2 separate regions of the Homo sapiens genome follow, and region 2 is reported to be linked to region 1. Evidence: microRNA targets listed by miRTarBase, many of them from high-throughput screens and not tested one by one. Region 1 holds a microRNA gene; the other region holds the end of a gene's coding sequence.
What was found. The annotated mature microRNA hsa-miR-3910 reads AAAGGCAUAAAACCAAGACA and lies in region 1 at 7,663-7,682, shown strand. An mRNA with a match to its seed (bases 2 to 7 or 8) in the 3' UTR can be bound and repressed. Matches are read on the target gene's strand: a 7mer-m8 pairs with bases 2 to 8, a 7mer-A1 pairs with bases 2 to 7 and ends in A, and an 8mer does both.

Region 1 (16,298 bases):
AGCAAACACTCTGCTTACTCACATCCCTTTGCAAGTGTGCAATGTGTGTGGTTTATTTATAACTGCTGGGGGAATTCCCGATTTGTTATTTGTAGGCATGTATGATTCTAGTGCAACACTAGAGTGATGTAATTTTCTTTGCTTAATTTCCCCAGTGTGCTTGTAATTATTGATTTACCAAATGAAAGAATTCTCATTTCAGCAGGCAGTCATTACTTCAGCCACTCCCGTCTTGGCTCTCTACCTAGATGGAGGAAACTGGCGAGCTTTGTGCTGTCCTGCATAGCATCAAAGGCCTGTCGAACTTCTTGGGGCCATGTTACTTCCCTCCCAGGCGCTGCCCCCAGGAGGAGCAGTGTTTGCTTAGGGCCTACAGGCCGATGATTGCATATATAGCACATGATCTATTTGTGTGTTTTCTGCAGTATTTTCATTAATCTTCAATTTCTACTAAAGCTGTACACTACTTAACACTGTCCATGCCAGTGTTTAAAATAAACTAGTGTGATTCCTAGGCACGAGGTGAGCCCCTTGCTGCTACACCACACCATAATCAGTGTTCCTTCTCAAACTCTGGTCCCTGGTCCAACTGCTTCAGCTTCATCTGGGGATGACATGCAAATTTTCAGGTCAAGCCCAGACTTAATGATTTTGGGACTCAGTGATCTGTGTTTGAACAGGCGGCCCTGAGCAGCTGCCACCGTGTTGGCTCTGAACCTGGATGGGGAGCCTGAGGAACTCTGGTCTAAGATGCACAATTGCAAAGGCCTGCAAGCCTCTCTGGGCTCCTTCTTCTGCCTCCTCCTCCCAGACAGGGTTGTGATACTTGCTCGGGTCTGAGAGGGGCTGGCCCTGGGAGCACCTTCCTCTTAGTGGATGTCACTTCTTCTCTGCTTACTTCTTTCTTTCTTTCGTTTCATCTAGCCAGCTGTTTCAGCCCTCTAGCACCTCTGGGCGGCCTGTCCTGTGACCCATACATGGAATTCCCTGAGGCTGCGCCCAGCCTGTTCCACAAGAATGTCCCAGTTTGACTTTTATGTTCCACTGCTGCTTTGTGATTTATTTCATAGGGGCAAACTTGCCCTGCCCCGGAGAACATGGGCAGGCCCTGTGACCTTTCCACCCACTCTTGCCTTGGCTTGGCAATTGGGATGTCCTTTCTGAGACAAGAATAAAGTCCAGGACCTGGATATGGGATCAGACCCTCTGCCCACTGCAGCCGGGCACACTGAGGGGAAGCAATGGGAGTGGACAAGGCACCATCGGCCTCTCTTTATTGTACAACCCATGCTTCACCAGTGGCCAAGGCTGCCTCCTGCAGGCAGGCAGAGCAGGGGGCTACCAGGGAGTTATACTTGAGATAGAGGGATCTTAATCTGTCTTTGCATCCTCCAGGCCTGGCAGGTGCTTAAAGTGCTGCCACTAACTACTTGCGACCCTGGGTGAGTTACTTAACTCTTAGGTCCTTTCTTCTGTGAGTGAACTCCATGGAAACTTCTGGGAGGGGGGCTCAGAGGCCCCTGCTTGGAGTCCCTTGGAGGCCACCACGCACCCAGGCCTCGTTCTCCTGCTGTTCCCCTCTCGTAGCCTGGAATTTTTAGGGCCCATGACCTATTCCGGTAGGTTCTTCTAGGCAGAACTGACAAAGTGCCCAACCACTACTTTAACTTTGAATTCTGCTCCAGGTCTTGAGAATCATGCCCCCAGGACCCAGCATCCCCTCTCCTGGTTGAATGTGGGGCATTTCCTCCCAAGCGTGGCAGGAGATTGCCTTTCCCCCAACTCTGCTACTGCTTCAACACTGCTCTCTCCTGTCATCCAGGCTTCCCTGGGTAGGAATCAGACTCCCCTCCAGGGTGTTCCCCAAGACTCTCATGCTCATGCTTCCCCTGGCTGAAGCCCCTCAGGAGACAGGAGTGAAAGAGACAGGGCCCACTTCTTCCCCAAGCTCTCTTCAAAACCCTTCCCCTAAAATCTTCTTTTCTCCAGCGCTCCTCCCTTGCTGAGGTAGAGGGGCTCAAGACTTGTCAAACTGGCTCTGAGCCATCTCTTTTGAAGATCTGAATTTGTAATTTTGTTTCTATTATGTCTTAGTGCTTCGGTTTTAACCTCCTGTCATAGCAGTCTGAGATTTGCAGACTGCTTTTTCCATGATGACACCTGTAAGTTTACCTATGTGCAGGCTATATTTTCCAAAGACAGCTACATCCTCATCACACCTGCTCTTCTGCAAGGTGACCTTGCCGTTCCCTAAATGCTGAGCAGTACCTGTATTTCCTGTGCTCAAATCCAGGCAGGCAAGAGAATCCATGTGAGTTCTGAGGTTAGGTCATGAAAGGTGATACAGCCTCCACCTCCAGGTTCTCTTGAAGCTCTGACTGACATGTAAGAAATCCAAGGCTGCCATGTTGTGAGGAAGCCCAAGCCACATGGAGAAACCACATGTGCTTGAGATTCCTGACCCTACCCACGAAGTCACCCCCAGCTTTCTGGTCCTTCCAATTGAGGCCCCCAAAATGATTGACAGAGCCACCTTATCGTGTTCTTTCTAAAGTGCCCACAGAATCAATGAGTATAATAAAAATAAATTTCTAAGAGCCTAAGTTTTGTTGGACTTTTTTACACAGATATAGAGAATTGACATGCTTATCATCTATATGGCAATGTCCCTGACTCTCCCTTTTGAGCTCAGATTCCTCAGAGGTCTGGGGCCTAGGCCCATGGGGATCAACCTCAAGGTTTCTAAGTTTTAATAATTCCAAACTTTTTCTTTTATTTCCCTAGCCCTAGGAATGGTAGCTGCATTTTGCAAATGCAACATTTGTGGTACCTCAGAGTTCTTTTATTGCCATTTCAGTTACCTAGTTAATAACTTTTTACTTATTTGCCAGTTGTTTGTATTCGATTATCTCTATTTAAGTAGATGTTAGTTTCTGTCCCCTGACTTGACTTTGACTGATACTAAAAATAGATACCATTTATTATTCTGGGTAAAGAATATCAATGTTATTAATTTCATTAAGTAAAAAAATCTCAGACATTAAAGAAGTTGTAAATGCAATGCAAATACACTATTTTATTTTCCTAAACCATCTGAGCGTGTTTTGCTCATTTGATGCCCCCAGGACACCTGAATCCTTCAGTGTGTATTTCCTACAAACAAGGACATTCTCCTGCATAATCACAATACATCCATCAGAAGCAGGAAATTAATATTGATTTCCTACAAGCTTGTAATCCACAGACCCATTCACATTTCATCAGTTGTGCAAATAATGTCTCTTATAGCAAAAGGATCCAGGCCAGGGCATGTGTCACGTGACTCGTAGTCTTGGTTAATCTGGAACAACTCCCTTTTCCTTGTATTTCTTTGATTTTCATGACCTTGACACTTCTGAAGATTACACACAAGTTATTTTACAGAATGTCCTTCAGTTTGGATTTGCCTGAATTTTTTTTTTTTTTTTTTGTAATCTGATTCAGGTTCTGCATTTTGGGCAAGAATCCCACAGAAATTATGTCATGTCCTCATAATACACTAGCAGGTAGCACCTGATCTTGATTTGCCCCATTCCTTACAATGTTCACTTTGATCTCTTGATTAAGCTGGTGTCTGCCAGCCTCCTTCACTATCAAGGTACTCTTTTTTATTTTGTAATTAATAAGTATTTTGGGGGAATCTACTTTGGAACTATGGAAATGTCCTCAATTTTTAATTTATTTACTTATTTATTTCTATCACTATGGACTTGTGCTTTCCTCTTTTACTCAATGGGGTATAATCTGTTATTTTCAGCATGTATTTTGACAACCAAATTGTTTTAGATTTGATCAATGGGAGCCCCTTCAAGCTGGCTTCTGTGGCCTTTTGTTAAGCTTTCAGTGTGCTGTGATTGCTTTATTCTTTCCTGATGGCACAAGACATTCCAGGCTCTTCTTATTCTTTCCCTGCCCTAGTACTAGAATCGGCCATCTCTCAAAGAAGCCAAGTCTTCTTTTAGTAGAGAATGGTATTTAAATACCAAGATCTGGCTTCTAGATGTGCTCATCGCTTTTAAGGTATTGCCCCTTCCAGACTCTTTCAGTGAAGAGAGAGCTAAGGAATATTTGTATATAAGCATTTACATGCCTGTATCCTACTCTGTGTATGTATGTATCTATCTATCAACCTACTTATATATTGAAAATCATAGATTTGTCCTAATATCTCAATTTCCAATGCAAAACTGGAAGGTTCATTCTAATTTTCTTTTTCTGTGTATTAATTTCCTTCTCTGACAGCGGGAAACTTGGCTTTCAGTGTCTTGAATACATTTGCTTGGTCAATTCCACCATACGTAACCAATCTCCCATTGCCACTGCAACCTCTTGTGCTGTGGACACTCTCCCCACCCCACAAAAATCACCTATCACATTAGTTTTCTAGGCAGAAATTGATTTTGTCACTGTTCTGGAGGCCAGAAGTCTGAGATCAAGATGTTGGCAGGATTGGTTTTTTTTTCTGAGGCCTTTCTCCTTGTCATGTAGATGGCATCTTTTCTCTATGTCTTCTCATAATACTATGATTTAAATGTAACCCTTCAAAATTCAGGTGTGAATTCCAAAGTGAAAGTATTGAGAGATGGGGCCTTTAAGAAGTGATTAGTCCATGAAGTCTCCTCCCTTGTGATTCAGCTTAATGGCCCTCATAAAAGAGGCTTCAAGCAGGGCTAAGCTTGCTTGCTCTTCTGCCTTCAGCCACATGAGGACAAATGTTCCTCCCTTCTGGAGGATGTAGTGTTCAAGGTGCCACCTTGAAAGCAGAGACTGGACCCTCTCCAGACACCAAATCTGCTAGCACTGTGACCTTGGACTTCCCAGCCTCCAGAACTGTGACAAAATAAATTTCCGTTCTTTATAAATTACCCAGTTGGTGGTATTCTGTTATAGCAACACCAATTGAACTAAGACACATGGTCTTCTTCCTGTGTGTGTATGGGTACTAAGGTCCTCTTCTTGTAAAGATTAGGGCCATCCCAGTGACATTATTTTAATTTAATTACCTCTTTAAAGACCCTATTTTCAAATATAGTCCCATTCAAAAGTATCAGGGGTTATGATTTCAACATAGGAATTTGGGAGGACAAAATTCAGCCCATAACACCCACCCTCTCTCACAGGTGAAAGTAACTGTGTTAGCTAACTACAGAGGCAATATCATCCCAGTACACTGTTCTCTGCCCCATCTCGTAGCTGTCACTCACCTTTGGGCTACTCTCCTACATTTATTGGGAACATTTCCTTTGTCTCCCTCATAAGTCCAACTCATGTTATCTTTTATCTAGATGAGCTAACTCCTATCTTAGTAGGAATTCTGTGGCAGGTTAAAGTTGACTACAAATTCTTTGACATCCTTTCCATATAAGAGTGGGATCCTTTTCTCCTCTCCTTGAATCTGGACTGTCCCATAACTGTTTTGACTAATCAAGTATGGAGGAAATGATGTTATGCAATTATAGGTTTAGTCTTTAAAGCTTTTGTTTTGGTCTCTGCAAGTGCTGAGCTACCATGTCTGACTAGTTTACAAGAGTGTATACATGGAGATTCTGATAATATATGGCATGGAAAAGGAGCTCAGCTGAGCCTAGTTGTCTCAAACAAGGCACCAGGTGTGTGAGAGAAGCAGTCTTGAGCTCCCTAAGCCAGACTAGCCACTAATTGAATATAAACAAGTGACTGACACATAGACCAGAGGAATTGCCCAGTTTAATCCTTGAATTCTTCACTCACAAAATTGCAAAATATCACTGTCATTTTAAGCCGCTAAATTTTTAAGTAGAACAATCTCCTTGTCTTTACTGGCCTTCGCCTCCATCTCAACTCTAATTCCACAGCTTTGATCCTGTCATTTCCTGGACCGCTTCAACACTGAACTGTCCATAGGCTGCAAACACCTTTCTATCTGTTCTTCCTCTTACTTACTTCACCATGCCAGAATTTAATATTCAGCAAACCTCATCACCCTAAACTCCTGAAGTTTTCTCCAGTCTGTCAGCTGATTCTTGGCTTTGATTTACTTCTTTTCTATCCTGTTCAAGCCACATAATGTATCATATCAATACTCTCTATCATGTTAAACTTCTGGGATCAATCCCTGCTCCCAGCCTGCAAATTCATATCTCTGGATTAGTCTACTTATTCACCTCTTTCACTTCTACACATAGGAAGCTGGAAGTTACTTGAGTCTTTGTTCTTTGGTTTTCTGCATCAGGTCCCTACAATGACATTTAGAAGATAAGACAGCACTGTCTTGTTAAGTAGGAATAAAGTTTATCAGGTAATTGAAAGGAAACAAAGAGAACTCTAAGTATCATGGAAGTAACAAGTGCTGGAAGCAGCTACCACCCATAGAACCTGGAAAACAAAGGAAAGAAGCTGCACTTCTTAAAACTTAAAATCTCAGAGGAGGGGACCCCTTGAGTCTGGGGCCTAGACCTCTGAGGAGAGGTGTCTGCCCAGCTTATCTTTTAAATGCCATTTTAGGGACCTGATGCAGAAAACAAAAGAACAAATGCTGGCATTTCAAAGTGTGTGTGTGTGTGTGTGTGTGTGTGTGTGTGTGTGTCTGTGTCTGTGTTTTACAGGGGAGTGAGACTGGTTTGGGGAATGTTGGGAGAACATTCAGGAACAAACTACTTATGGTGGAACAAATTACACTCTCAGAATGAAAAAGTAAAACATTTTTTTCTTTCTACTCCAGGCTTCAGTCATCCCTTTAGTGCCTTCTATTGATAGAGCATAAATGTGTTTGCAGAGCTCCTGCCCCAGCCTCATATACTGAAGGTAGAAGGATGGGCTTGAAGCTGGGAGACAGTAGCCTAACAGATAGTATAGTAAATTTAAGTAAAATACTTGTCGACAAACTTTGGTTTTGAACCCAAGATGGATAATTCTAAAATTGTTTTGAATCATGTTAGATGAATTTAACCCATTTATAATTATTATGATAACTCATATGTGTTATCTATTTATTCAGTCTTATTTTATGTTTTCTGTTTATGTTGCTTTATTTTAAAATTTTCTTTCTTTTCTTTCACATCTTTTGATATGTTTCCTTTTAAAAATCATATTATTCAGTAACTTGTAAATTAGATAGCTAATTCTATTATACTGTGTTACCTACAAATTAGAATAGCAATGATAACTACTTATTTAAAATTATATTTCTTTTCAATGGCAATAATAAAATTGGATAGGATGCTACTCCCACCAAAGAACAGAGGGCTCTGTTTTAAAGAAATTATGCTAAAACATAATTGGAAAATAATATGTATTCTAGTCTGGGAGTCTGTGTACCATGTCTTTCTCATTTTGACTCTTGGAGAGCCCAGTGTCAATGCCAGTTCCTTTTCTGCTTACCCAAAGAAAGCCCACCAGTCTATTTGCCCTGTCATGCCCTGCCCTGCCCAGAGCATCCAGCAAGAATTCCCATTCAGTGGTGAGACTGATGGAAAACAGACTAATGTTCTCAACAGCAGAGGAAACCACACCAGCCACCCTGGTCTTTTGATTTAACTAGAACTGAGCAACTGAAGACCAATTGGCACATAAGGAGAAACTTCTGTGATCAATCCTTTTTTTGTTGCTTGTCTTGGTTTTATGCCTTTTATGTGCCTTGATATAAAAGGCATAAAACCAAGACAAGCAACAGAAAAACTGACAGCAAAAGAAGAAGAGAATCCGAAGACATTAAAAATCCCCTTAATTGATGAATTAAAAGAGATTTTGGAAACATATCTAGATAACAAGAGCAAGATGTTACAAAAATGTGACAAAAAAACTGAGATCTTTAATAAAGAAAAATTAGGATTTAAAAAAAATTTCAATAGAAGGCCTGGAAAATCCAATGAGCTCCTTAGAGTCAGAGCAAAAAGAAGGAAAATATTAGAGAAGCAAAGGAAGTATAGAAAACCAATTCATCAGGCTTTTCAGAAAGAGTGAACAGAGAAAATTAAGAGAACAAAATTATATTTATTTATTTATTTTTTGTTGAGATGGAGTTTTGCTCCTGTCACCCAGGCTGGAGTGCAATGGCGTGATATTGGCTCACTGCAACCTCCGCCTCCTGGGTTCAAGGGATTCTCCTGTCTCAGCCTCCTGAGTAGCTGGGATCACAGGCACCTGCCACCATGCCCAGCTAATTTTTGTATTTTTAGTAGAGACAGGTTTTGCCATGTTGGCCAGGCTGGTCTCGAACTCCTGCCCTCAAGTGATCCACCTATCTCGACCTCCCAAAGTGTTGGGATTACAGGCATAAGCCGCTACTCCTGGCCCAAAATTATATTTCTTAAAAAATTAAAGGAAATTCCCAGGGCTGAATGATATGAATCCCCTATTGAAAGGGCATGCTGATTCCTGAGTGCAGTGAATGAGAAATGGCCCCAACTGATATACATGCTCATTAAATTTATGAGCACCAAAGGAAAAAAGAGGTTTCTGGAAACTCCCAGAGAGAAGTTAAAAAAAAAAAAAGAAAGACCCTTTTTAAAGGGATAAAGGCCAGATTGACATGAAACTCTTAAGACGAGGTAAAATATTCAATTTTTTTTTTTTTTTGAGACGGAGTCTTGCTCTGTTGCCCAGGCTGAAGTGCAATGGCGCAATCTTGGCTTACTGCAACCTCCGCTTCCTGGGTTCAAGCAATTCTCCTGCCTCAGCCTCCCAAGTAACTGGGATTACAGGTGCACACCGCCATGCCCGGCTAATTTTTTTGTATTTTAGTAGAGACGGGGTTTCACCGTGTTGCCTAGGCTGGTCTCAAACTCCTGAGCTCAGGCAGTCCACCCGCCTCGGCCTCCCAAAGTGCTAGGATTACAGGCATGTAATCTCTTTCTCCTCCTCCTCCTCCTCTTCCTCCCCCTCCTCTTCTTCCTCCCCCTCCTCTTCCTCCTCCTCCGCCTCTTCCTCCTCTGCCTCTTCCTTCTCCTCCTCCCCTCCTCTGCTACTTCTTCTTCTTCTCCTCTTTTTCTTCTTTTTCTCCTTCTTCTTCTTCTTCTTCTTCTTCTTCTTCTTCTTCTTCTTCTTCTTCTTCTTCTTCTTCTTCTTCTTCTCCTTCTCCTTCTCCTTCTTCTTCTTCTTTTCTTCTTCTTCTTCTCTCTCTCTCTCTCATTATTTCCCTACAGTTTCCACTCAAACAACTTTAGAGAGCACTTTTATTTCTCAAACCCAGGCTTTCATCTCATTTAACAGATTATCTGTTGAACATTTTACCAAATATCCTCTGGAATTAGTGACCAAATGATCAAGTAACATTAAAGAGTGTTGCTTTACTATTCTGTTGCCCAGAGTTTTCATTTGGGTAATATTTTTTTAGTGAGCTTGCCTGCCTTTAGAGAGTCTCATTCATCTTTTTCTAGTCTGACAACCTGTGGTAAATTTAGTCTTTAATATGTTTATGGGATGAAATAGACTGCATATTTAAGAGTTTCAAAATAAAAATAGCATAGAACCCTAAGGATATAGCTATAGCTATTAGGGAATAAAGAAGTATGGTATCTATCCTTGATAAACTCTGTCTCTGACTTCTTTGTGGAAAGTGTAATATATTTTGGGAGCATATGGCTCCATGCTAATGCTTATTAGCAAATGCCATAGCTTATATTGTTCTATGCCTTATAACCATTTCAAATGGCATTTGAAAGATACAATTTTAAAACAGCATTGGATGATATTCTTCAAGAGAAGGCACAATAAATTCACATAATAAAGCCACTCCTGCGGCTCTTATTGATGTGTGAGAGAGATTGGGGAAGGGAAGTCCTTGAGGGACTTCAGCCTTAGATAAGCCCTGTCATCAGATCTCATTCTAATAGAATGTAAGCACACTTATAACTGTTGACTTAAAAGGACTGAGTGGACCAGCAATGAACAAGAATGATGAGATTGGAAAACATAGAGCAGGATCACACTAGAATAGAAAAGAGCATCAGGAAAAAGTTGGAGAAAGATTCCTCTACCTCTATTTTTATTTTAAACTTTTGTGGAAGTGAGTGATTTACAGGGATTATTTGTTAGTACTTGAGAATGCCTGAGTGTTCTGGGATATGGTCTGACGCTCCTGGCCAGTTGAAATGAATGTGTCAACCTTAATGAAATCTCCATAGCAGTCTCTACTTGTTACAGTAACCTGTTCTGCCTATGTACACAGAGAGCAATTAGCCTGTATCAGACAGACACAAAAAGGTGGCGCAGCCCTGAGATGGAGAGGGTGTGCCAGGATAATGGCAAATGTAGGTGAAACCCTCAGACTAATTCTACAATAGGTCACTTGTTCCATCACTTTGTCCATTGGAAAGGAAGTGACTCTCAAGCTACATCTCATCAGGAAACCTGGAAGCTTCTTGACAAGAAGCCTTTGACTGACCTTCAGATGGTCATCTTGGCTTTTCACTATCCAGCACAGCAACCCCTTTCTACCTACTCTCATTGAAGCTCAGAATGGCTGCAATTTCTTGTTTGCCACACAGAAGCCTCAAGAGAGGTCCACTGACTCCCTGCATTCCAGATCTTCTCCTCCCATTCACACTTGTGGCAGCACCATCTTCTCATGACAGTCAGGGTCAATTAGTCCATCATGCAGTTAGTCTTTTCACCACGTGTGGGCTCACAGGTAAGAGCAGCCCAAAGTGCCCATGTGGCATTTGCAGCTGCAGGTGCAGCAGAATCCTTACTTGGCTCCTGGACAGAAGCACTGCCCAATGGGAACCAGGATTTCTAATACAGCAAACCTACGTTTACAGAAGTGGGAGGATTCTTTTTCTCTCCCCTCCCCTTTCTTCCCCTCCCCTCCCTTCCCCTCTCCCTTCCCTTCCCCTCCTCTTCCTTTCTGTTCCTTTCTTTTCCCTCCCTCCTCTTCCTTCCTTCCTTTCTTCCTTCCTTCCTTCCTTCCCTCCCTCCCTCTTCCTTCCCTTCTACTTTCCTTCTTTCTTTCCATTAGCCATAATAAGGTAGAATTTACCTGCAGTAAAAAGTACAGATCTTAAGTGTACAATTTGATGACTTGACAGCTATATATCTGTGTAAACACCACCTCTATCAAGATATAGAACATCACCCTCATCCCTAGAAAGTTCTCCTGGCCTCCTCTGCAGATTCAGGAAATAAAGATTTTCAAAGCAGTTCTTTTCCTCAAGTGGTTCACTACCTAAGTGCAGCAACAGGGCATATATGCTTTAGCCCCACTTTGCTGGCCCAAAGGTCCCACTGGATTCTGGTTTTTGAAATTTGATTAACAGAGTGTGCATTTCCTCTGCTACTCCAAATCAGATGCTCATAGCTAAAGACTATCTCTTGAAAGCATGATGGATGATGGCAAATTATTTTTAGTTTAATTAACAAAATGGACAAAGAAATCAGTAATCCCACAGCTGTGTGAAGCAGAGGCTAAGGAAATTGGCTAGCGCCCTTCATTCCTGCCCTACAAAGCCTGGGTTCTGGTCCTGGTGAGTGCTGAAGCCATTTCTGGGTGAAGAAGAATCTTCCACCCAACACGTTTCCTTCCTCTGCTTGCCCATCTTCCTTACCTGCTCTCAAAAGCAAGATCAGGCTACAGCATTTTGAAAGGCAGAGGAGACAAAGTTTCATCTCCTTTTCTTGAGATTGGCTCTTCATCCCCTACTCCTCACCTCCTGGCTTTCTTAATGGCCTTACTTCTTCTTTTTTTTTTTTTTTTTTTGGAGTCTCACTCTGTCACTCAGGCTGGGGTGCAGTGGCATGATCTCAGATCATTGCAACCTCCACTTCCTGGGTTCAAGCAATTTTCCTGCCTCAGCCACCCTAGTAGCTGGGATTACCGGCATGTACCACCATGACTGGCTAATTTTTGTATTTTTAGTAGAGACGGGGTTTTGCCATGTTGCCCAGGTTGGTCTCGAACTCCTTATCTCAGGTGATTTTCTGCCCACCTCAGCCTCCCAAAGTGCTGGGATTATAGGTGTGAGCCACTATGCCTGGCATCTAATGGCTTCACTTCTGACCCCCATTTCTCTCTCTCTCTCCCTCCTTTTCCCTTGCCAGACAAGGAATTGGCAAGCTGTACTTGGAGGAGCCTGGGGCCTGGACTGTTGGAGAAGGGTTTGTGCTGAAGGCAGGACCTTGAAAGAAAGAGAGAAAGGAAGATCCAAACTAAGGAAATGGCAGGAGGAAAAAGGCAGAGACAAAAATCTGAACATCAGACAGAGAGAGAGCCCAATGGTATACGTTTGGAGGGTCAGACAGAAACTTTTTACTTGCTGAGAGAGTTTGGGCAAGTTAGTTAATTTCTCTGATCACCAATTTTCACATTTGTAAAATGGGGAATAATTAATGCCTTTGAGGGTGGATGTGAGGATTTTTGCTGACATATGTGAAGTGTGTATGATGTGCATGGTGTTCATTAGATTATGTGAAATGACGGCTATTACTATAATGAGGCATGGTTAGAGCAACACAGAGACCAGCCTGGCTGAGAAAAAAGACGCATGTAGAATTGAAAGGCTCCAGTAGGAGCCAAGTCATGGAAAATTATTAACTAATGTAATTTCTTTAAAAATTATTCTCGACTTCTTAAAGCTTCTTAAAACTGGAAATACATGGAAGGTATATGGAACCTATCATCTCCATTTTGAGATGGTCAGATTTAAAAAAAGATAAGGCGCTAAATATTATTGCTATATTGTGTCTATGTAATGGGTCGGCATTCTTCGTTATTATGACGAAGGCAATGTAAGGAAGATGTGCTGAATGACTCTTGAGTCTAATGCAATATGACTTCCTGTTGTGATCAAAGGCTGTTTATCATGGTGGTGTTAGAGGGAAACTGACCCTAGGGGAGTGATGGGTGTGAAAGTAACTTCCCAAGGGCAACAAACTCAACAAACATTTACTCAATAAACATTAACAAGTACATGGTGAATGCTAAGCTCTCTGCCAGGCATTCTGCCATTATTCTACCTCCTCTGCAACCAAGATTTCTATCTAGAGATACAGATGGAAGATACCTGAGTTCATGACTGAATTTATTCCTATTTTAGTATCTTGTTTCTCCCTTCCTTTGGTATGAACTTTTCTTATACTAACTCTTTATTATATTAGAAATATCTCCCCCTAAGTTATGTTCTGCAATTTTGGCAGTTTTATTGATGTATAGGATTTTTGTTAAGTTTTAGTATACCTCTATTAAACCATCACCACAATTGACATAATCACCCAAAGGTTTTCTTTTGTCCCCTTGCAATCTTCTCCTGTTACCCCTTTCCAAGTTCTGAGCAAGTGCCATGAGGTAATGGGGGCTCCATTCTTTCACCCAGCCCCTACTTTTGGAATGGAGACTCTACCTTGGCATGGCATGCTGAGAAGGGTGGTGCCATAATCACCCTTGCTCCAGCTGACTGGAAGTTGTTCCACATCAGGAGATGTAAGGACCAAGAGGACCCCAGGCTTCTGCCCTGCCTCCACTGGGCATTCAGAACCTGAAATGAAAGTGTCCCTGGGAGAGAAGCTTGCCATTGTCCTAGCCCCCAGAGTCAAAGCTCTGGCTGGAAGGCAGAAGCAGGCCATAAAACAGACAGCTCCTAATCTCTTCCTAAAGGAACTTACTTCATTTGCAAAAGAGGATAAAAGAGTTCAAGCTCAAGGATTCTCTCAAGAACAGTGAAAATTGTGGTGAAAGATGATTGGGAGGCAGGTCAAGATCTAGGCTAAACTGTAGGCCTTCTAGTTTGCAGGAGAGAACTGGGGAAGAAGACATCTGGGAAGGGCCCTCATAGTGTCAGAACACATATCAAACAGTGACTTCAGAAACTGTTTCTTCAAAGGAGCCAGAATTTGATTGGGTTAGTTTGTAGAACAATTTATGCCTAAGGGAATTGTTAATAATGGATTAATCAGCTGGAAATTAGTGGGGTTTAACAACTGGGTGTGGTCAGAGGAAGACAGCCCTACCAAAACCACTGTCATTCCAGGTTTGTAAAGCTAAAGCTGAACCTCCCAGAGGAGCAACATCAGAAGTGGGTGTGTGTGGTGGCATAGACTTCATTAAAATAATACAGTCAATCACTAAACAAATAAACCAGGAAATTAGAATAAGCCTGGGGGTTGGGGGAGGGCACTAGTATTCAAAGTTGCTACAATATATTATACAAAATATCCCATATCCAATAAAAAATTACAAGGTGTTCAAATCCAAGACTGTGTGAGTCATATATTGAAACAAAAGCAGGCAGCAGAAATTACCCATGACAGTAATCAGATATTATATTTATCAGACAAAGACTTCAAGGTAGACATTATAAACATATTTACAAAACTAAATGAAACCATAATTAAAGGAGTAAAGGAAGGTATGATGACAATTTTGCATTAAATAGAAAATATCAGTAAAGATATAGGTATTATAAAAAAATAAAAATTTTGGAATTGAAAAGTACAATAACCAAAATAAAAAACTCACTGGACAGGTTCAGTAGTAGATTTGAGCTAGCATAGGAAAGAATAAGCAAGCTTAAAGACGGATTGATAAAAATTATGCCAGCCAAAAGAACAAAGAATAAAGAAAAATGAACAGAGCCTAAGAAAATTGTGGGACACCAGTAAATGCAGCAAGATAGGCATAATAGGACTACCTGAAAGTGAAAAGAGAGAGAAAGAACAGAACATATATTTAAGGAAATAATCCCTGAAGACTTTCCATATTTACTGAAAAACAATAACCCACACATCCAGGAAACTCAATGAACTCCAACAGGTTAAATCTACAAACAGTTCCACAGACACATCATAGTAAAAGTGCTGAAAGTCAAAGGCAAGAAGAAAATCTGGAAAGCAGTGAGAGAGAAATAACGGGTCACTTAGAAGGAAACCCCAGTAAGACTAACAGCTTACTTCTCAGCAGAAGCAACAGAGGTCAGAAGACAGTGGGATAACATATTCAAAGTTCTTAAAGGAAAAAAAATTGTCAAACAAGAATCTTATATTCAGAAATGCATCTTTCAGAAATCAGGGAAAATTGAAGACTCTTCAAGATAAACAAAAAGAATTTATTGCTAGCAGATTACACTTTACAAGAAATTCTAAAGCAAAATTTTTCAGATTGAAATCAAGTGCCTCAGGACTGTCATTCAAGCCCACGTGAGCAAACAAAGAACACTAGTAAAGGTAATTACGTAATTATAAAAAATAGCATAGGGAGCCGCTGTGGCTCAGGCCGGTTGCTCTGGCACTCGGGGAGGCGAGGTTGCATGTTCGAGGCCAACCTGGTCAACATTGATTTAAAAAAAAAAATAGCATAGATGCAAATTTTTGTCCTTTCATCTCTTAACTGATTTAAATAACAATGGTGTAAATAATATTTATATGATGTATTGTTGGGCCTGGACCATATAGAAATACAGCATATGCATCATATGCTTGCCAATAGCAGCACAAAGGAGGTGTTTGGGAGCAAAGTTGATTGAACTAAAAACATAACTACAGATGTATCGGGGGACCTGCCCCGATACTCACGTAGGTTCTTTTCTATTTTCCTAAGCGTCGACTGGCTTGAGAAATAAAAGGACAGAGTACAAAAGAGAGAAATTTTAAAGCTGGGCGTCCGGGGGAGACATCACACATTGGTAGGATCCGTGATGCCCTACAAGCCACAAAAACCAGCAAGTTTTTATTAGGGAGTTTCAAAAGGGGAGGGAGTGTGCGAATACGTGTGGGTGACAGACATCAAGTACTTAACAGGGTAATGGAATATCACAAGGTAAGTGGAGGCAGGGCGAGATCACAGGACCACAGGACCGAAGTGAAATTAAAATTGCTAATGAAGTTTTGGCACCATTGTCATTGATAATATCTTATCAGGAGACAGGATTTTGAGATCAACCGGTCTGACCAAAGTTTATTAGGCGGGAATTTCCTCTTCCTAATAAGCCTGGGAGCGCTGTGGGAGACTGGAGTTTATTTCACCTCTGCAATCTCGACCATAAGAGACAGGTATGCCCGGGGTGGGGGGGGCAGTTCAGAGACCTACCCCTAGGTGCGCATTCTCTTTCTCAGGGACGTTCCATGCTGAGAAAAGGAATTCAGCGATATTTCTCCCATTTGCTTTTGAGAGAAGAGAAATATGGCTCTGTTCTGCCCGGCTCACCGGCGGTCAGAGTTTAAGGTTATCTCTCTTATTCCCTGAACAATTGCTGTTATCCTGTTCTTTTTTCAGGGTGCCCACATTTCATATTGCTCAAACACACATGCTGTACAATTTGTGTAGTTAACGCAATTATTACAGGGTCCTGAGA
Region 2 (14,593 bases), not on the chromosome of region 1:
TAACAGGTTCCCAGCTGATGCTATTTCTCTGGGGATCACACTGGGAGAACCACTGGCCTGCCTAGTCTATGTATCAAATAACGACCATTTATTTATCAGGTACTCTCTATGTGTTAGGTAGCTTGCAGGCTATATATCAATAGGCAATATACTCAAAATCCTACACGTACAAGAGGATATACAGTAAAATCTCTCCCACCCGCTAGTCATCCAGACCGCCCCCTCGTCAGCCAGTTAGTTTATTGTGTCTTTTCTGAGACACAAGCAAATATCTATATATTCTTTGTTCTCTTTTTCCACACAAATGCCAATCTACTGGACACATGGTTTTGCCCTATCATTTTTCCACTCACTATGTCTTAGGGATATGTCTATGTTAATACACAAAAGAACTTCTTCCCCTCGTTTTAATGGTGGTACATTGTGTAGCTGGCCCATTTGGGTTTCCATGCTGTACTTTTCACTAACTCATTGCAAAAGTCTTCCCCTTATTTGATAAGTGAGAAAACTGAGGTCCAGAGACATTAAGTGACACGCTAAAGGTAAGACAACTTGTAGTTGATGGAGCCAAAATACAGACTTTGGGTTGATTGACCCCAACAGCCCTATTCTTTGAACTAGATTGTGTTCTGTAACCAAACATACACAATCAGACATTCACTCTTGGCCTGGCTCCACACTGAGTCCTGGGAATTCAGATGAATTGCCTTTGAACTCCTAGTCTTATTAGGGAGTGAGGAGGAGACAAGAAAACAGACCTTGGCAGCACGAGCACATAGTAATCACGTTGAAGACCCAGCAAGCACAGTGAGGGAACCTAACCCAGCCTGGGGATGGTGGTTGGATAGGGGTGATCAGAGAAGGCCTCCTGGAGGAGGTGAAGTCTGGGGGGCATCCTGAGGAACAACAGGGTGTGTCTGGGGGATGGGAGGTGTGCGTGGTGAACGTTCAGGCTTATGGCGAACATACAGCCGTGTTGCCCTTTGCTGTGAGAGCTTTGTTTTGAGGGTAATGGTAGAGCACTAAGTTTGACATAGTAAAAGAAAATTATTGCTTTGGTATTTGGACAAAAATACTTGGAGCCCAGTGAGTCTGAAACCCTGAGATAGAAGCTGTGTTGGGATGATCATTTCACAGATAGAAAAATGGATTGTCTACCTGTGAAGCTGAGCAGTGGCTTCCAGCACTCACCAGTTTTGTGGTAGCGTTTGGGGGTAAGTGAGCCAGTTCAGGAGCTTGGTGTAGACCAAGGTAGATGTAGGCCAGCGTCAGCAGGCCTCCTGGTGGCAAGCCAGCCACCAAAAGATTGCCTGTATTTCTCCATTTGCAGATAAAATCGCCAGCAAGCTGTCTGATTCCATGATGTCTGCTCTCGACCTCTCTGGCAATGCTGATGATGGTGTTGGTGACTAATCGACTGATCTCACTTCCCTTCCGCTCCAAGCACCAGTTCCGGTGGTACGGGGGAATACCAGTGAAATAGTTTGGTTCTCCCTGAAGCATCTGCATATTGAAAGAACGCTTTCCCCACTGTGTGTCTTCTCCCCCTCCTCCAGTAAAAACAGTCCCGGCTAGGTGCTGTGGCTCACGTCTGTAATCCCAGCACTTTGGGAGGCCGAGGTGGGCAGATCACCTGAGGTCAGGAGTTCGAGACCAGCCTGGCCAACATGGTGAAACCCCGTCTCTACTAAAAATACAAAAAAATTTAGCCGTGCTTAGTGGCACCTATAATCCCAGCTACTTGGGAGGCTGAGGCAGGAGAATCGCCTGAACCTGGGAGACTAAGGCAGGAGAATCGCCTGAACCTGGGAGGCAGAGGTTGCAGTGAGCCCAGACGGCACCATTGCACTCTAGCCTGGGCAACAACACGAAACTCCGTCCCAAAAAAAAAAAAAAAAAAAAAATCCCAAGGGGCTGCAGCTGCCAAACCCAATACCCTCTATTTAACCCCTACTCTGTTTTACAAGAGAAATAAAAGAAGTATCAGCAGAGCTCAGGTGCTAACACCTGTTGAGGGCTGACCTACAAAACTCTGCCTACAAAACTCTCTTAGACAGGTGAATATGCCACTAGAAGTTAGGTTGCTGGTAGACCTGGGGGTCCCTGCGGGAGGGTGATGGTTTCTTTACCACCCCACAGGAGATTTCAGTGGCAAGGCATGCCTGCAGTGGGCTTTGGGCCATGCATCTTCCAAGTCCATAGGTCTTCACCTGGGTGGCAGTGAGAAAAAGTAGAAAGTAATGAGCCTCCTGTGTCTCTGGAAGGTTCTAGGGATAGGGTAGAGGGAAGAAGAGAACAAACAAGCCTGGCTTGTGCTGAAGTGTGGTAGGCACTACCCTGTTTGCGTGAAGAGAAAACAAAGCACCTGTTAGTAGGGAGGCTTTAGGGGGAAGCCCCGTCTTGGGGGCATTTCTGGGCAGATTGTGAATTGGAGGAATCTCTTTAACTGAAGTACTCTGGCTGGACCCTGCCCTTGTGTGACCATGTCTCCTATTGCACCAGCATTTGAATTCCATGGCTCAAGAGGGTTCTGGTACCATTTATTCACAGACTGTATCCTCGAGAGAGCTGCTATATATGGGAGTGTACCAGCCAACTCCTTTTCCAGTGTCTGTAAGTCACCTCATTAAAGTATAATTAGCTGTCTCCTCTGGGAGATCCTACCCCATCAGACAAGGGCAGTGAGCCCAAGCAGTGCCAGAGGCCCTCAGAAAGGGATTAGGGTAGATGATTGCAACTGAAACACAATCTTCTTTCTTTGCCAGGGTATTTTGGGGGTTTTGCCCCAAAATATACCCTGGGCATAGCATTACTGCAGTCTTGGATGTCTACCCCAAACTTCCACACCATCCTTCGACCCACAGCTGCACCTTTATTTATTTATTTTGCTCTGTTGCCCAGGCTGGAGTGCAATGGCGTGATCTCGGCTCACTGCAACCTCTGCCTCCCGGGTTCAAGTGATCCTCCTGCCTTAGCCTCCCAAGTAGCTGGGATTACAGGCACCTGCCACCACGCCTGGCTAGTTTTTGTATTTTTAGTAGAGACGATGTTTCACCATGTTGACCAGGCTGGTCTCGAACTCTTGACCTCAAGTGATCCACTCGCTTCGGCCTCCCAAAGTGCTGGGATTATAGGCGTGAGCCACTGTGCCCAGCCTCACAGCTGCATCTTAACCTTACCTTTGCCTCTGCCTCTCAAGCTGGTACCTCCTAATTTACATCCTAAGAGTGGAACCATGTGACAAGGACTGGAGTGCCATTGGCTGTGGACTGTTCAGGCAGGGAAGTACAAGACCACTCTTGTATTCAGGGGCAACCAAAGGAGAGAATTACGTACTTGTTGAGTACAAACTGCACCAAGCCCTGGAGACCCATTACCACCGTTAACCCTCAATACAGCTCTGCTAGTAAGGGATTCGTCTCCCCAAATGAAAAAAAAAAGTAATCTCAGAATGTTGGCCGAGCATGGTGGCTCACACCTGTAATCCCAGTTATGCAGGAGGCTGAGGCAGGAGAATCACTTGATCTCAGGAGGCGGAGGTTGCAGTGAGTCGACATCACACCACTGCACTCCAGCCTGGGGGACAGAGTGAGACTTCGTCTCGGAAAAAAAAAAAAAAAGTTGACAGGATGGCCAGACCCAAGTGGGCGTATTAAGTGGTGGTGCTAGGATTGGAACCCAAGCGTGATTAAAACCCTATGCAGGCCCTTTCCTCTATATTGTACTGCCTCCTTAACAAAGGAAGATTGATTAAGCCCCTACTTTGTGCCAGTCTCTGTTATCAAGTCCGTTAAATGCATTTAACGTTAAATTTTTTCTTTTTTGGTTTAAAAAACTCTAGTTTCTTAAACTACTAGTTTTTAGTGTCTTGCTAAAACTATGTGCTCTTGAATAGGCTACAACTTATTTCACACTATCTCATTGAACTCTCCTGGTATGTGATAGTGTTATAATGAAAAATTGCATACCAGGACAGCTAAGTCTATTTTGCAACCATACAGCGTTTCATAATTTAGCATTTAAAATACAGACAGTCCCCGACTTTTGGTGGTTTGATGTGGGATTTTTGGTGGAAAAGCAGTATACATTCAGAATGCACCTCTACTTATGATGGGGCTACTTCCTGGTAAACCCATTGTAATGTGCAAATTACGGGTTTATCAGGAGGTGACCCCATCGGTAATGGAGAAGTGCTGGGAGGTAAATATTAGAAATGGAAGTATCTAAATGAGTAAGAAACAGCATGGGAGCATAATTTGGCCAAAATCAAACAGAACTAAAGTAGTCATGTCGGTAAGAATTTGGGACTGCAGGCCAGTTACGATAGCTCTCACCTGTAATCCCAGCATTTTGGGAGGCCGAGGCAGGCGGATCACTTGAGGTCAGGAGTTCAAGACCAGCCTAAACAATATGGCGAAACCTCATCTCTACCAAAAAAATACAAAGATTAGCTGGGCATGGTGTCTCATGCCTGTAGTCCCAGCTACCTATGGGGCTGAGGCAGGAGGATCTCTTGAGCCCAGGAGGTCGATGCTGCATTGAGCCGAGATTGTGCCACTGCTCTCCAGCGTGGGCAACAGAGTGAGACTGTCTCAGGGGGAAAAAAAAAGAGGAAAACAAAAAAGACGTTGGGAGTGCAGTTTCTCTACCTACAGCATATCTCAAAGGTTTTTTTTAAAAAAGTATTTTCTTAACTTTTTACCTTCATTTTTCAAAACAATTAGGGTACAATTTACATATAGTAAAGTTCACTCTTTATAGTTTTAGTTATGTGAGTTTGTACAAACATATACAGGAGTGAACCACTACCACAATCGAAATATAGTTGCATCACCCCCCTAAAACTCTCCAGGCCCTTTTGTAGTCAACTCCTACCCCCGACCCTCAGATTCTGCTAACCACTGATTTGTTTTCTGCCCCTATAGTTTTGCTTTAGTATGACTGTCATATCAATAGAATCATACAATGAGTAGGCTTATTTTATGCCTTCAGGTTTTAAAAATTATAAACATTTACATTACAGTAAAATTCACTCTGGTATACAGTTCTATAAAGCTCTGATAAATGTGTAGAGTTGTGTAACCACCAATGCAACCAAGGTACAGAACAGTCCTCTTAGCCTCTCCCTACCAAATTTATTCCTGCTACTTTGTAGTCAAAACCAGTCCCCTACACCCAAACCCTGGCAGTCACTGGTTTTTTTCTTCGTTCTCTTTTTTTTTTTTTTTTTTTTGAGACAGAGTCTAGCTCTGTTGTCCAGGCTGGAGTGGTGCAGTGGCGTGATCTCGGTTCACTGCAACCTCCGCCTCCAGGGTTCAAGCGGTTCTCCTGCCTCAGCCTCCCGAGTAGCTGGGATTATGGGCGCCCGCCACCACGCCCAGCTAATTTTTGTATTTTTAGTAGAGATGGGGTTTCACTGTTTTGGCCAGGCTGGTCTCGAACTCCTGACCTCATGATCCTCCTGCCTCAGCCTCCCAAAGTGCTGGGATTACAAGAGTGAGCCACTGCGCCTGGCCTTTTTCTTTGTTCTTATATTTTTGTCTTTTTTTTTTTTTTTTTTTTGAAACAGAGTCTCACTCTTTCACTGAGGCTGGAGTGCAGTGGCGTGATCTTGGCTCACTGCAACCTCCACCTCCTGGGTTCAAGCGATTCTCCTGCCTTAGCCTCCCGAGTAACAGGGACTACAGGTGCCCACCACCATGCTGGGCTAATTTTTGTATTTTTAGTAGAGGCGGGGGTTTCTCCACACTGGCCAGGCTGGTCTTGAACTTCTGACCTCAAAAGATCCACCCACCTCGGCCTCCCAAAGTGCTGGGATTATAGGCATGAACCACCGTGTCCGGCCATATATTTTCGTCTTTTGAAGACTGTTATATACATGAAATTATATGGTATGTAGCATTTTGAGAGCGACTTCTTTTGCTATGAGTAATACATTTGAGATTCATCCATATTTCTCAGTATATTAATAGTTCTTATTTCTGAGTCACTCCATTGTGTGGATTTACTACTGTTTGTTCCCCAGTTGAAGGATGTTTAGGATCTTTGCAGTTTTGGACAATTACAAGTAAAGCTGCTATAAACATTTGTATGCAACATTTTGTGTTTTCATTTATCTATAGTAAATACCTAGAGTTGGATTGCTGGGATATATGGTAAGCATATGTTTGACATTTTAAGAAACTTCTAAACTGTTTTTCAAAGTGGCTCTACCATTTCACATTCCCATCAGTATGAAAGTTTCATTTCCACATCCTCTCTAGTACTTGGGGGTGTCAGTTTAGTTTTTTAATTTTTAAATTTTTTAATTTTTTTAATACATTTAAATAGAGATGGGGTCTCACTGTGTTGACCAGGATGGTCTTGAACTGCTGGCCTCAAGTAATCCTCCCATCTCGGTCTCCCAAAGTGCTAGGATTACAGGTGTGAGCCACCATGCCCAGCCAGGTTTTTTGACATTAAGTATGTGGTGGTATCTCATCGTTTTTATTTGCATCCTCTAATGATTTGAGCATATTTTATATGCTTATTTGCTATCTACATATCTTCTTTGGCAAGGTGTTCACATCTCTTGCATATTTTGGATTGTTTTATTATTTTTGAATTTTGAGGATTATATGCTGGATACAGGGGTGTTTTTTTTTTTTTTTTTTTTTGAAACAGAGTCCTCACCCAGGTTGGAGTGTAGTGGTGCAATCTCGGCTCACTGCAACCTCTGCCTCCTGGGTTCAAGTAATTCTCATGCCTCAGCCTCCTGAGTAGCTGGAATTACAGGCGCAGGCCACCATGCTTGGCTAACTTTTATATTTTTACCAGAGACAAGGTTTCACCATGTTGGCAAGGCTGGTCTTGAACTCTGGACCTCAAGTGATACACCCGTCTTAGCCTCCCAAAGTTCTGGGATTACAGGCATGAGCCATTGTGCCTGGCCAGTATCTTGTCTTCTCATTCTGTAAACGGTGTCTTTTTTTCATTATGGGAAAGCTTTATTGACACATTTGTTTTTATTTTTAAAAATTATGGTAAAATACACAGAACATAAACGTTACCATCTGATATGGTTTGGCTGTGTCCACACCTAAATCTCGAATTGTAGTTCCCATAATCCCCACACATATGTACCACATTTTCTTTATCCAGTCTTTCGTTGATAGACATTTAGGTCGATTCCATGTCTTTGGTATTGTGAATAGTGCTGCAGTGAACATATGTGTGCATGTGTCTTTATGGCAGAATGATTTATATTATGCATAACCAAAACTGTACTTATTAAACAATAACCTCCCAACCCCTTCTGCCCACAACCTCTGGCGACTGCCATGCTACTTTCTGTCTCTGAATTTGAATACCCTGATAGTCATATAATATTTATCTTTTTGTGACTGGCTTATTTCACTTTGCATAATGTATTCAAGCTTAATCTGTGTTGTAGCCTGCGTCAGAATTTCTTTTCTTTTTAATGCTGAGTATTATTCTATTGTGTGTATATACCACATTTTATTTATCCATTCATCCACTGATGGACATGTGCATTGTTCCCACCTTTTGGCTATTGTGAAAAATGCTGTTATGAATATGGGTATGGAGATCTCTCCCCTTATTTTGAGACAGGATCTCACTGTCACCCAGGCTGGGGTGCAGTGGTGTGCTCATAGGTCACTGTAGCTTCGACCTCCTGGGCTCAAGCGAACCTCCCACCTCCGCCTCTTGAGTAGCTGGGACCACAGGCATGTGCCACCATGGCTGTTAAATTTATTAATTTGTTTTTCTATGGATCATGCTTTTTGTGTTACATCAGAGGAGTCTTTGCTTAACATGAGATGACAAAGGTTTTCTCCCATGTTTCCTCCTAAAAGTTTTATAGTTTTAGGTTTTACATTTAGGTCTATGATCCATTTTGAGTCAATTTTTGTATATGGTACAAGGTATGAATCTATGCTTTTTAAAAAAATATGGTTACCCAATTTTTCTAGCAGTATGTGCTAAAACTTTGCTAAAGTCACTTAGTTCTAGTAGCTTTTTTTGCAGATTTAACCAGACTTTCTACATAGACAATCATATCTTCTGTGAATAAACATGGTTTTATTTCTTCATGTCTAATATATATGTCTGCATTTTTTTTTTTGTCTTATTGTAGTCGCTGGGACTTCCAGTACTACACTGAGTAAGAGTGGTGGCCAGGTGCGGTGGCTCACGCCTGTAATCCCAGCGCTTTGGGAGGCTGAGGTGGGCTGATCACCTGAGGTCGGGAGTTTGAGACCAGTCTGACCAACATGGAGAAACCCCGTCTCTACTAAAAATACAAAATTAGCTGGGTGTGGCAGCGCATGCCTGTAGTCCCAGCTACTTGGGAGGCTGAGGCAGGAGAATCTCTTGAACCCAGGAGGCAGAGGTTGCAGTGAGCCGAGATCACACCATTGCACTCTAGCCTGGGCAACAAGAGCGAAACTCCATCTCAAAAAAAAAAAAAAAGAATGGTGAGCACAGGCATCCCTGTCTTGTTTCTGACTTTGGGGGAGAGTATTCTTTCTGCCTTTAACCATTAAGTATGTTAGATTTTTGTATTGCCCTTTACTAGTATGAGGTGCTAAGGGTTTGTTTTAGGAATGGATGTTAGATTTTCTTAAATGTTTTTATGCATCTATTGAAATGATTACATGGTTTTTCTTTTGTGGTTTGTTTTTAATGTAGTTTTAATAAATTATATTGATTGATTTTCTTATGATAAACCAATCCTGCATTCCTGTGATAAACCCCACTTTGTCATGATGTATTATTCTTTTTTTTTTTTTTTTGTGAGACGGAGTCTCACTCTGTCACCCAGGCTGGAGTGCAGTGGCATGATCTTGCCTCACTGCAACCTCTGCCTCCCGGGTTCAAGTGATTCTCCTGCCTCAGCCTCCTGAGTAGCTGGGACTACAGGTGCGTGCCACCACGCCCGGCTAGTTTTTGTATTTTTAGTAGAGATGGGGTTTCACCATATTGGCCAGGCTGGTCTCGAACTCCTGACCTTGTGATCCGCCCGCCTCAGGCTCCCAAAATGCTGGGATTACAGGCATGAGCCATTGCACCCAGCCTATTCTTTTAATAAATTGTTGGGAAGTTATATTAGTTTCTATTGCTGCTGTAAAAAATTAGCACAGACTTTGTGGCTTAAAACAACACAAATCTATCATCTTACACTTCTAGAGGTGAGAGGTCCCAAATGAGTTTCACTGGGCCAAAATTGGTGTTGTCAGGGTTACACTCTCTCCAGAGACTCTAGGGGAGAATCCATTTCCTTGCCTTTTTCAGCTTCTAGAGGCTGCTTAGATTCCTAGAATAATGGCTTCTTTCCTCATCTTCAAAATAACTATGTAGTATCTTTTTTTTTTTTTTTTGAGACGGAGTCTCACACACTGTCGCCCAGGCTGTTGTGCAGTGGCACGATCTCCGCTCACTGCAACCTCTGCCTCCTGGGTTCAAGTGATTCTCCTGCCTCAGCCTCCCAAGTAGCTGGGATTAGAGGCATGCGCCACCATGCCCGGCTAATGTTTTGTATTTTTAGTAGAGATGGGGTTTCACCGTGTTGGCCAGGCTGGTCTTGAACTCCTGACCTCATGATCCATCTGCCTGGGCCTCCCAAGGTGCTGGGATTATAGGCGTGAGCCACGACGCCTGGCCAACAATGTAGTATTTTTTCTCTTTTCTGAACCTCTCTTCCAATCCTTATATCTTCTCTGACTCTGATCTTCCTGCCTCTCACTTAAAAGGACTCTTGTGATTACTTTGCATGCATTGGGATCATCTAGGATAATCTCCACATCTCAATATGTTTAAGTTAATCACATCTGGAAAGTTCCTTTAACCATGTAAAGTAACATATTCAAAAGTTTTGGAGATTAGGATCTGTAGATCTTTGAGGATGGGAGGCATTATTCAGCCTACTGCAGATGTAATTTGATAAATTTTTGCTTGGAATTTTTGCATCTACATAAGGATATTGGTCTGAAGTTTTCTTTTGTTTAATGTCTTTATCTTTGGTATCGGGGTAATGCTGACCTCATAGAATGGGTTGGGAAGTGTTTCCTGTTTTTGGAAGAGTCTGTGTACAATTGGTATCATTTCTTAAATTTTAGAGTTTACCAGTAAGTTTTATTTGTGGGAAGGTTTAAGACTACAATTTCAATTTTTAAAATATATATAGGGCTATTCAGGTTATATTTCTTCTTGTGTGAGGATTGGTAATTAGTATTTTAAAGAAAGTTCTTCATTTCATGTAGTTTATCAAATTAATTTTTGTAAAGTTGTTAATATCCTCTTATCATTTTGTATAAATTGTTAAAACGATTCTAAAATTGATAAGAAAATGCAAAGTAGTTAGAATGTAGTCAAAGCAACTCTGAAAAAGGAACAAAGTTGGAAGACTAACACAATGTGATACCACATTTGTCATTCCTGATATTAATAGTTTGTGCCTTTTTCCCCTTGATCATCTGGCTAAAGATTTATCAATTGTATTGATCATCTCAAAGAATCACATTTTGGTTTAATTGATTTTCTCTGTTTTCTGTTTTCTAATTCATTGGTTTCTGCTTTATCTTTATTGTTTCGTTTTGCTTATTATCCAAAAAGTTTATGATTTTTGTATTACTTAGAACTGTGTTATTTAACTTCCACATATTTGGACATTTTCCAGAGATCTTTCTGCTATTGACTTCTAATTTAATTACATTATGGTAAAGGAATGTACTTTATATGACTTGAATATGTTAAAACATATCAAAACTTGTTTCATGGCCCAGAATATGGTCTGTATTGGTAATATGTTTCATGTGCACTTGAGAAGAATAAATTTTGCTGTTGTTGAGTAGTCTTCTATAAATGTCAACCAAGTTAAGTTGGTTGATAGTGTTTTTCATGTCTACTATATCCAGGCTGACTTTATGCCTACTTGTTCTATCAGTTATTAAGAGAGGACTATCGAAGTCCCCAATGATAATTGTGGATTTGTCTGTTATTTTTTGTAGTTGTATCAGTTTTTATTTAATTGATTTTGAACCTTTCATGCTAGGTGCATAGACCTTTAGGATTGTCATGTCCTCTTAGTTAACTGACCCCACTATCATTCTGAAATGAACTTCCTTGTATTCTTTGTTCTGAAATGCATTTTGTCTAGTATAAATATAGCTGCTGCAGCTTTTTTGGGCTAGTTTAACTATGGTATATCTTTTTCATCCTTTTACTTTTTATGTATTTGTGTGTTTATGTTTAAAGTGCATTTATCATAGGCAGCATATAGTTGGTTCTTGCTTTTTTATCCAATTTGACAGTCTCTGCCTTTTAATTGATGTTTGGATCCATTTACATTTAATGTTATTATCAGTATGGCTAGGTTTGAGTCTATCATCTTGCTATTTGTTTTGTATTTGTTCCATGTATGCTTTGTTCCCTTTTCTCCCTTTTTCTGCCTTCTTTTGGATTACTGTTTTTTTTAATGATTCCATTGTTTTTTCTTCCTTGATTTATTAGCTGTACCTCATTGTTTTATTATCTTAGTAGTTGCTTTAGAGTTTATAGTATAAATGTTTAACTTCCTCCTCCTGGCTTTCATGCTAGTGTCATAAATTTTACTTGTAGATTTTATAAACCTTAAAATACATTGTTGTTATTTTTGTTTATACTTTAAGTCCTCTTTTAAAGAGATTTAAATAATAGAAAATAATTATATACTCACATAGTTACCATTTCTGGTATTCTTCATTGCTCTGTGTGGCTCCAGACTTCTATAAGGTAGCATTTTCTTTCTGCCTGAAGAACTTTCTTTAACATTTTTTGCATTGTGAGTCTATTGGGCAATGAATTAATTCAGCTTTTGTATGTCTGAATGTATTTTTTTTGCCGTCATCTTTGAAAGGTATTTTTGCTACATATAGAATTTAAGTTGATAGGTTTTGTCTTTCAGTACCTCAAAAGCATTGTTTCATGCTCTTCTCAATTATGTTGTTTCTAAGATGTCATCCTAATTTTTTTTTTTTTTTTTGAGACAGAGTCTTGCTCTGTTGCCCAGGCTGGACTGCAGTGGCACGATCTCAGCTCACTGCAAGCTCCACCTCCCGGGTTCATGCCATTCTCCTGCCTCAGCCTCCCGAGTAGTTGGGACTACAGGCACCGGCCACCACGCCCGACTAATGTTTTTATATTTTTTAGTAGAGATGGGGTTTTACCGTGTTAGCCAGGATGGTCTCGATCTCCTGACCTCGTGATCCATCCACCCGCCTCAGCCTCCCAAAGTGCTGGGATTACAGGTGTGAGCCACTGCGCCCGGCCTTTTTTTTTTTTTTTTTTTTGAGACAGGGTCTTGCTATGTTACTCAGGCTGGTCTCAAATTCCTGAGCTCAAGCAATCCTCCCACCTCCGCCTTGCGAGCAGCTGAGATTATAGGCGTGCACTGCTGCACCTGGCTTGAGACATCTGATGTCATCTTAATTTGTTTCTTCTATAGATAATGTGTTTTTTAATCTTTATCACTTTTGAGCAATGTAATTATAATATGCCTTGGTGGGTTTTTTTCTTTTATGTTTTTCTGCTTGGAGTTTATTGAACTTCTTGGATATTTAGGTTTATAGATTTCATCAAATTTGGAAAGTTTTTGGCCATTAATTTATCAAATATTTTTTCCTCTTCACCTGCTTTCCTCCTTCACGGACTCCAGTTACCTATTTTAAGCTGCCTGAAGTTGTCCCACAGATCATTGATGTTCTTTGGATTTTTTGGATTTTTTTTTTCTCTCTGTGTTTTATTTTGGGTAGTTTCTATTTTATTTTATTTTATTTTTATTTATTTATTTTTTTTTATTGATCATTCTTGGGTGTTTCTCACAGAAGGGGATTTGGCAGGGTCATAGGACAATAGTGGAGGGAAGGTCAGCAGATAAACAAGTGAACAAAGGTCTCTGGTTTTCCTAGGCAGAGGACCCTGCGGCCTTCTGCAGTGTTTGTGTCCCTGGGTACTTGAGATTAGGGAGTGGTGATGACTCTTAACGAGCATGCTGCCTTCAAGCATCTGTTTAACAAAGCACATCTTGCACCGCCCTTAATCCATTTAACTCTGAGTGGACACAGCACATGTTTCAGAGAGCACAGGGTTGGGGGTAAGGTCACAGATCAACAGGATCCCAAGGCAGAAGAATTTTTCTTAGTACAGAACAAAATGAAAAGTCTCCCATGTCTACTTCTTTCTACACAGACACAGCAACCATCCGATTTCTCAATCTTTTCCCCACCTTTCCCCCCTTTCTATTCCACAAAGCCGCCATTGTCATCCTGGCCCGTTCTCAATGAGCTGTTGGGCACACCTCCCAGACGGGGTGGTGGCCGGGCAGAGGGGCTCCTCACTTCCCAGTAGGGGCGGCTGGGCAGAGGCGCCCCTCACCTCCCGGATGGGGCGGCTGGCCGGGCGGGGGGCTGACCCCCCCACCTCCCTCCCGGATGGGCGGCTGGCCTGGCGGGGGGCTGACCCCCCCCACCTCCCTCCCGGACAGGGTAGCTGCCGGGCGGAGATGCTCCTCACTTCCCAGACGGGGTGGCTGCCGGGCGGAGAGGCTCCTCACTTCTCAGACGGGGCAGCTGCCGGGCGGAGGGTCTCCTCACTTCTCAGGCGGGGCGGCCGGGCAGAGACGCTCCTCACCTCCCAGACGGGGTCGCAGCCGGGCAGAGGCGCTCCTCACATCCCAGACAGGGCGGCGGGGCAGAGGCGCTCCCCACATCCCAGACGATGGGCGGCCAGGCAGAGACGCTCCTCACTTCCTAGATGTGATGGCGGCCGGGAAGAGGCGCTCCTCACTTTACAGATGGGATGGCGGCCGGGCAGAGACGCTCCTCACTTTCCAGACTGGGCAGCCAGGCAGAGGGGCTCCTCACATCCCAGACGATGGGTGGCCAGGCAGAGACGCTCCTCACTTCCCAGACGGGGTGGCGGCCGGGCAGAGGCTGCAATCTCGGCACTTTGGGAGGCCAAGGCAGGCGGCTGGGAGGTGGAGGTTGTAGCGAGCCGAGATCACGCCACTGCACTCCAGCCTGGGCGCCATTGAGCACTGAGTGAACCAGACTCCGTCTGCAATCCCGGCACCTCGGGAGGCCGAGGCTGGCGGATCACTCGCGGTTAGGAGCTGGAGACCAGCCCGGCCAACACAGCGAAACCCCATCTCCACCAAAAAAATACGAAAACCAGTCAGGCTGAGGCAGGAGAATCAGGCAGGGAGGTTGCAGTGAGCCGAGATGGCAGCAGTATAGTCCAGCTTCGGCTGGGCATGAGAGGGAGACCATGGGGAGAGGGAGACCATGGGGAGAGGGAGAGGGAGAGGGAGAGCTCTTTTTTTCTTTTCTTTGAGACAGAGTCTCGGTAGTTTCTATTTTATGCCTTCAAGTTCACAAATATTTTCTTCTGCATTGTCTAGTGTGCTGTTTGTCCCTCCAGTGTATTTCTTCAACTCAGACATTGTAGTTTTCATCTCTAGAAATTAAATTTGGGTGTTTGAAAATATTTTTTATTCCTCTATTTACCTGTTTGAACATACGGAATATAGATAACAAATGTTTAATGTACTTCTCTG

Region 2: the mRNA of GNL3L is a reported target of hsa-miR-3910. Seed matches in the 3' UTR shown: 7mer-A1 at 2,968-2,974, 7mer-m8 at 4,983-4,989 and 7mer-A1 at 5,656-5,662.

Annotation. Positions count from the first base shown.
Region 1 is chr9:91,627,661-91,643,958 of GRCh38, reverse strand. MIR3910-2 (microRNA 3910-2) reads left to right here and starts at 7,614; the gene lies at 7,614-7,695. MIR3910-1 (microRNA 3910-1) reads right to left here and starts at 7,708; the gene lies at 7,598-7,708.
Region 2 is chrX:54,559,190-54,573,782 of GRCh38, forward strand. It overlaps GNL3L (G protein nucleolar 3 like), which reads left to right. Exons shown (of 16, transcript NM_001184819.2): 16 at 1,331-8,100. The coding sequence ends at 1,413. Among named protein-coding and RNA genes, the nearest start is that of GNL3L, 36 kb to the left of the region's middle.